Linked DNA regions of Homo sapiens. The protein of the gene in region 1 interacts with the protein of each later gene in a pairwise test. Each region holds a gene or a part of one and is shown in the gene's direction. Other genes may lie near its edges.

What was found. Proteins that work in one complex are often made in the same cells at the same time.
Region 2: the proteins of BTBD1 (region 1) and RSPH1 interact in a two-hybrid assay, tested with the Homo sapiens proteins (one large-scale study listed by BioGRID and IntAct).

The regions. Positions count from the first base shown.
Region 1 is NC_000015.10:83,036,253-83,039,752, reverse strand, and holds part of BTBD1 (BTB/POZ domain-containing protein 1), read left to right. Parts: intron 1-3,500.
Region 2 is NC_000021.9:42,486,225-42,489,724, reverse strand, and holds part of RSPH1 (radial spoke head 1 homolog), read left to right. Parts: intron 1-3,263; coding exon 3,264-3,354; intron 3,355-3,500.

The DNA.
Region 1 (3,500 bases):
AGGCTGGAGTACAGTGGTACAATCTTAGCTCACTGCAACTTCCACCTCCTGGGTTCAGGCAATTCTCCCACCTCAGCCTCCTGAGTAACTGGGACTACATACGCCCGCCCGCCACCAAGCTTAGCTAATTTTTGTATTTTTTGGTAGAGATGGGGTTTCACCATGTTGTGCAGGCTGGTCTTGAACTGTTGACCTGAAGTGATCCACCTGCCTCAGCCTCCCAGAGTGCTGGGATTACAGACATGAGCCACTGTGCCCAACCTTGGTAGTTCTGAGTTCTTTAAAAAATCTCCAAACTGCTTCCCACAATGGCTAACCTTATCTACATTCCCACCATCAGTGAACACGAATTCCCTTTTCTCTGTAGCCTTGCCAGCAACTGTTTTTTTTATTTTAATAGGCATTCTGAGGAGTATGAGGTGGTATCTCATTGTAGTTTGGATTTGCATTTCTCTGATGATTAGTGATGTTGAGGATTTTTTTCATGTTTGTTGGCTGCTTGTATATCTTCTTTTGAGAAATGTCTGTTCATATTTTTTGGCCCACTTTTTATGAGTTTTTTTTTTCTTATTGAATTGTTAAAATTCCCTGTAGATCCTGGATATTAGACCTTTGTCCAACACATAGTTTGTGAATATTTTCTCCCATTCTATAGGTTGTCCATTTGTTGGGTTGATAGTTTCTTTTACTGTGCAGAAGCTCTTTAGTTTAATTAGGTCCTACTTGTCAGTTTTTGTTTTTGTTGCAATTGCTTTTGAGGACTTTGTCATAAATTCTCTCCCAAGGCCAGTGTCCAGAAAAGTATTTCCTAGGTTTTTTTCTAGGATTCTTATAGTTTGAGGTCTTACTTTAAATCTTTAATCCATCTTGAGTTAATTTTTATGTATGGTGAAAGGTAGGGGTCCAGTTTCATTCTTCAGCATATGGCTAGCCAACTTTCCCAGCACCCTTTACTGAATAGAGGGATCTTTCCCCATTTTGTCAAAGATGAGGTGCTGTAGGTCTGCAGCTTTATTTCTGGGTTCTCTTTTCTGTTCCATTGGTGTATGTGTCTGTTTTTGTACCAGTAACATGCTGTTTTGGTTACTGTAGCCTTATAGTATAGTTTGAAATCCAGTGGTAATGTGATGCCTCCAATTTTGTTCTTTCTGCTTAGGATTGCTTTGGCTATTTAGGCTTTTTTTTTGTTCCATGCATATTTTAGAATATTTTTCTAGTTCTGTGAAAAATGATGTTGGTAGTTTGATAGAAATAGCATTAAATCTGTAGATTGCTTTGGGCAATATGGTCATTTGAACGATATTGAGTCTTCCAATCCACGAGCATATAATGTTTTTCCATTTGTTTGTGTCATCTGTGATTTCCTCCAGCAGTGTTTTATAGTTCTCCTTGTAGAGATCTTTTACTTGGTAAAAATATATCTAACCAAGATGTATGGATGTAAAAATACCTGGTAGAAATACATCTTAGTTAGATGTATTTCTAGGTATTTTATTTTTTGTGTGGACATGGTAAATGGGATTGCATTCATGATTTGGCTCTCAGCTTGAACGTTACTGGCGTATAGAAATGCTGCTGACTTTTGTACATTAATTTTATATTCTGAGGCTTTATTGAAGTTCTTTATCAGTTCCAGGCGCCTTTGGTGGAACTTTTTTTATTTTTTTGAGATGGAGTTTTCTTGTTTGTTGCCTAGGCTGGAGTGCACTGGCACGAGCTCAGCTCACTGCAACCTCTGCCTCCCGGGTTCAAGAGATTCTCCTGCCTCAGCCTCCCGAGTAGCTGGGATTACAGGTGCCTGCCACCGTGCCTAGCTAATTTTTGTATTTTTAGTAGAGATGGGGTTTCACCATGTTGGCCAGGCTGGTCTCAAACTCCTGACCTCAGGTGATCCACCCTGTCTTGGCCTCCCAAAGCGCTGGGATTACAGGCGTGAGCCACCGCACCTGGCCTGGTGGAATCTTTAGGGTTCTGTAGGTATAGAAGCATATCATCTGTGAAGAGAGATAGTTTGACTTCTTTTCTTATTTGGGTGCATTTTATTTCTTTTCCTTTCCTGATTGCTCTGGCTGGGACTACCAGTACTATGTTGAATAGGAGTGGTTAGAGTGAGCATCCTTGTCTTTTTCTAATTTCAAGGTGAATGCCTCTAGCTTTTGCCCTTTCAGCATGATGTTAGTTGTGGATTTATCATAGATGGCTCTTGTTATTTTGGGGATATTGTTTTGATGCCTAGTTTGTTGAGGGCTTTTATCATGAAGAGATGCTGGATTTTATTGAATGCTTTTTCATGTCTATTGAGACAGTCATATGGTTTTTATTTTTAACACTATTTCATGATTGTTTTGAATTGTATTACTTTTTATTTTTCGATTTTATTTTAGTTTTAAAGATGAAGTCTTGCCATGTTGCTCAGGCTGGCCATGAGCTTCTGGGCTCAAGTGATTCTTCCACCTTCACCTCTTAGCCAGTGTGCCTGGCTGAATTGTATTTCATTATGCTTATTGGCCTATTTATTTTCCTTTACATTATTCATGTCTTTTGTTGTTCTGTTGGTGTGTTCAAATTTTGTTTTACTGGTTTATCTTACATTGATTCTTTGTATATTTATTATTATACCAAATTTTTTTTTCTGACTTATACTTGTTCCAATTTTCTCCAAGATTGTTTTTGTTTTTGCTGATAAGAATCAGTGTTTGGGTTTTTTTTAAATAAACTTTTGAAATTAAAGTTTAACATCCATATAGTAAAATTAACAAATAAAGTGAACATACTTATTTAACCAATTTATCCTACTGTACTAGTACCCCAGAAGCCTTTGTCATGACCCTCTAAGTCACTAATCTCCCTCTGAAAGGTGACTACTTTCTGTCTTCTATAAATTAGTTGTGTCCATATGTAAACTTTATATAAAGGAAATCATATATATGGTGTGTATTCATTTTTGTGTGGCTTCTTTCTCTTAACATTACGCCTGTTAGATTCATCCATGTGGTTGAGTGTGGCAGTAGTTCATTCTTTTTCATTGCTTTATAATATTCTGTTATACAACTGTGCCATGATTTATCCATTTTACTGTTGTTGGATATATGGATTATTTCTGTTTGGGGACCATTGAGGCCATTCTTGTACGTGTGATTTGGTATACATACGTAAACATTTCTGTTGGATATATACGAGTGGAATTGCTAAGTCATGGAGTGTGCATATGGTCGGCTTTAGTAGATCCTGCCATCCTGCCAAACAGTCCCTTAAAGTGGTTGTAACAGTTTACACTCATCAACAAAGTGAAGAGACATAAGAGTTTGTTTTGGTTGCCCACATCCTCTCCAATACTTGGTATTGTCAGTTTTTGTAGTTCTAGCCATTTGTGTGGATGTGAGGACGTATTTCATTTTGGTTTTAAATTTCATATCACGGATGATTAATGATGTTGAATATGCCAATAATTTTTTAATCCAGTCTGACAGACTTTGTCTTTTATCTGAACTGTTTTGGTT
Region 2 (3,500 bases), on another chromosome or scaffold:
TGTAAAACCATATTTCAGCGATTACACATACCAAATGCTGTGGCAAGTGCACGGAACCCTGCCCAGGGTCTGACACCGAGTGTTTCCCCATAAGTGTGGGCTCCTTCTCTCCTGTGTTTGGCTGACCCAGCAGTTTAGGGAGCCAACTTGGCAAGACCATGGGCCAGCATGGCAAACCAGTGACCAACCAGCATTTGAGGGGGGAGGAGCATCTTGGAGAGCTTCTCATTTTAAATTGTCTTCAATCCCAAGTGCCAGACAAACTGCTCTACCCAAGGAGCACCTGCTCCACACCAGCCAACTGACCCACAACCAGCCAATCAAACAGCCAACCAATCAACCAACCAGCCAACTGACTAGCCAACCAAGCAACCAATCAACCAACCAATTAACCAACCAACTGTCTAACCAACCAACCAATTAGCCAACCAGCCAACCAACCAACCAACCAACCAACCAGCCAACCAGCCAACCAAACAGCTAACCAATCAACAAACCAGTCAACTGACTAGCCAACCAACCAAACAACCAACGAACCAGCCAACCAAACAGCCAACCAATCAACCAACCAGCCAACTGACTAGCCAACCACCCAGCCAACCAGTTAACCAACCAACCAGCCAGCCAACCAACCAACCAACCAATCGGTTAGCCAACTAACCAACCAGCCAACCAGCCAACCAACCAACCAACCAGTTAACCAACAAATCAACCAACCAACCAACCAACCAACCAACTGGGAGTTACTCCTGAGAAGAAATATAGTTGGAAAAAACCTCAGTTGACAAGTTCAAGAATGATCAGAAAGTATAGGATTGGGGTAGAAAGACTTTAAAAAAAAAATTAAGTGCAAATTTAAAGCCACAATAATAAAGTTTACAAATGTCACTCACCTCAAAAAAGGAAACTTGACTTATAGCTGTTAGAGATGTGCCTCAGCAGGTGACTTTTCTCTGAATTACCTTCTCTATTTGTGCAGGGTCCCTGTGGTGGCATTACAAAATGCTGGGCCGAGCCTCTTAACAGGTTTTTTAAGTAGATTGGGACTTTAAAAAATTTTGCTCACCGTCCTCTTGGTGCAAAATTTAGTGTCTTTTGCAACTTAACTGTTCTCTTTTATTTTTGAAATTTTTCTGCAAAATATGTAATATATTTTTCTCACCATGACACCCTGGAGATCCTCTGACATGGCCAAGAGAGGAGGGATGTAATAATTTTGTCATGAAGTTTTGTTGGGAAGAAACCAAATGATGTACCTGTTTCAGCTGAGGTCTCTATGCCCCAGGGCTGTGCTGGAACCCCCTCATAGTAGCTCACAAAAACCCATTCTGTGCATCTCTTCCCAGCTCCATGTGTAGCTTGAAATTGGCCGCGGTGTGAGTATTTACACCACAGAACCTGGCAAATGTTACAAATCCAGGCACATCACTGCCCCTTAAGACCCAGACAAATCCCTCTAGGTATTTGCACATCCTCATGGTTAATTTAGGTTCAGGGACCTGAAGTATTTTTTACTGAATTATCTCAATTTGGGGATCTTCATCTCTCTTGTTCACATTGTTCCTGTCACACATCACATCATGGGACCTAGTCCTCTTCCTTAATTGTTAGCAGTTGCCACCTTCCCTCTCTCCATGAATTTTTGGTAAGCCTGCTCTTTTCTGAATGACTTACCCACTTTTTGAAATTGTGCCATGCAGCTTTTCGTGCTGCCTTCCCTGTCCTCAGCTGCTGCTCAGGTGCCAACCTTCCATCCTCAGGCTGGTGCTCGCGCCCTGGGGACATGCACTGTCCTTTGTACAGCTCTTCGTTCATCTCACAAAGTGCCCAGGACATTGTAGGTGCTGAGTAAATAATGGGATGATTGAGGAAATAAATATGTAGAAGTTCCTTCTGCAGATAAATTTTGGGGTTATTCACATAAACAAATATTACTTGAATAATTAGCATTTTCTTAGCCTATTGGGTATTCTTTATCTTCATGTGGAAGTGGGTCCAGTTTTTGTGTAAGCCAGAAGCTTATGTAAGTTTTGAGAACCTCTTTAAAAAAAAGAAAATATAAAGTTGGTATAAAAGTGAATTTTCATTTGCAATGATAAATCAAAATAAGTTAAAAATTTAAAAATACCACAAACATCACAGAATCTAAGTAGCCTGAGTTTTAATGTCTGACATACTTCTAGAATAGCTTTTCTCTACCTTTGTTAGCTAATACTCTTTGAATGCTTCTCCATATGGCAACCATTTTGTAATGTTTTCTATAGAGAGAATAGAAATATAATTCCTTCTTTTCTCTTTGATCAACAAATTGATCAACATTTGCTTTTTATTATTCATAGTCTCAAAACATATCATTTAGCTTAATGACTTGGTGTAATATGCACGTTTTTAAGAGCAGTCACCTTTGGGAGACCTCTATTAAGTTTCTTTCCTAAGTGAGCTGTAAGATTTGAGGACGTTTTGAGTTTTCTAGTGCAGGGATTCATACTGTGGTTGACAAAAGTAGTTTGCAGTTGTCCACATCATGGAGTGGTATTATGAATTTTATGATATCCTTGCCAATTTCAGTACTGCCTACCAAGCCTATAAGGACTTAGCAGAAGCCGTATGGAGGTGAGGAGGTGAGGGAAGAGTTCAAACAGAGGCATGGCACCAGCGGATGGAGCTGGTGTGCAGCTGGGGTTAGAGTGGCATGTTGGAGTCAGATGATTGGGTGGGAGATAGACTGAAATGCTGCCAGGTGGCTGAGGATAGATGGTCAAGCCCTGGAGTTGTTGCTGGATCTCTAAACATTTGCAAGGTAAATGAAGTGTGGTGTTAGGATCACTGGCAATGGGTCAGACAACCTTGGTTTGTCTCCCTCCTCGTTGCATCTTCGTGGTGCCTCTGACTAACCTGTGAAATGTGCTTGTCAGTACATGCAGGTGGCTGTGGCCCACATCCATACACCTCACTCTGTACCCCGTGAACTCCTGACTCAGCCCTCTCTTAGCCCACTGTCCACCGTGGCTCAGCACCTATGCCATCTGGCACAAAAGGAAGGGGTGGAGGGATGTCAGAGTGGAAACAGATAGCAGCCTTGGTCGGTGCTGTTAAAAATCTCTCTTCTGCAGGATTTCCTGAGCAGAAGGGGCCTGTGTGTGCATGGGCTTCATTTGCTTCACAACACATCTGCCTTTGCCATGGTTAACAATTTGAAGACATGGTACAGGGCATCGATCCCTTCTTCTCACCTGGGCTTGCCTTTGTGTTGTTCCTTTCAGGAGAGTGGGCAAATGACCTGCGGCACGGCCATGGCGTATACTACTACATCAATAATGACACCTACACTGGAGAGTGGTTTGCTCATCAAAGGTTCGGTTTCTATCTTGGGTCTTAACGGGATTTGCTTATGTAATGAGAACATGATGTCTGCAGATTGTTTACACTTACTGAGGAACAGAATCATAACAAAAGCCCAGTTACCAACTCTGCCAGGCAGGTCCAATCTTTCTATGGCT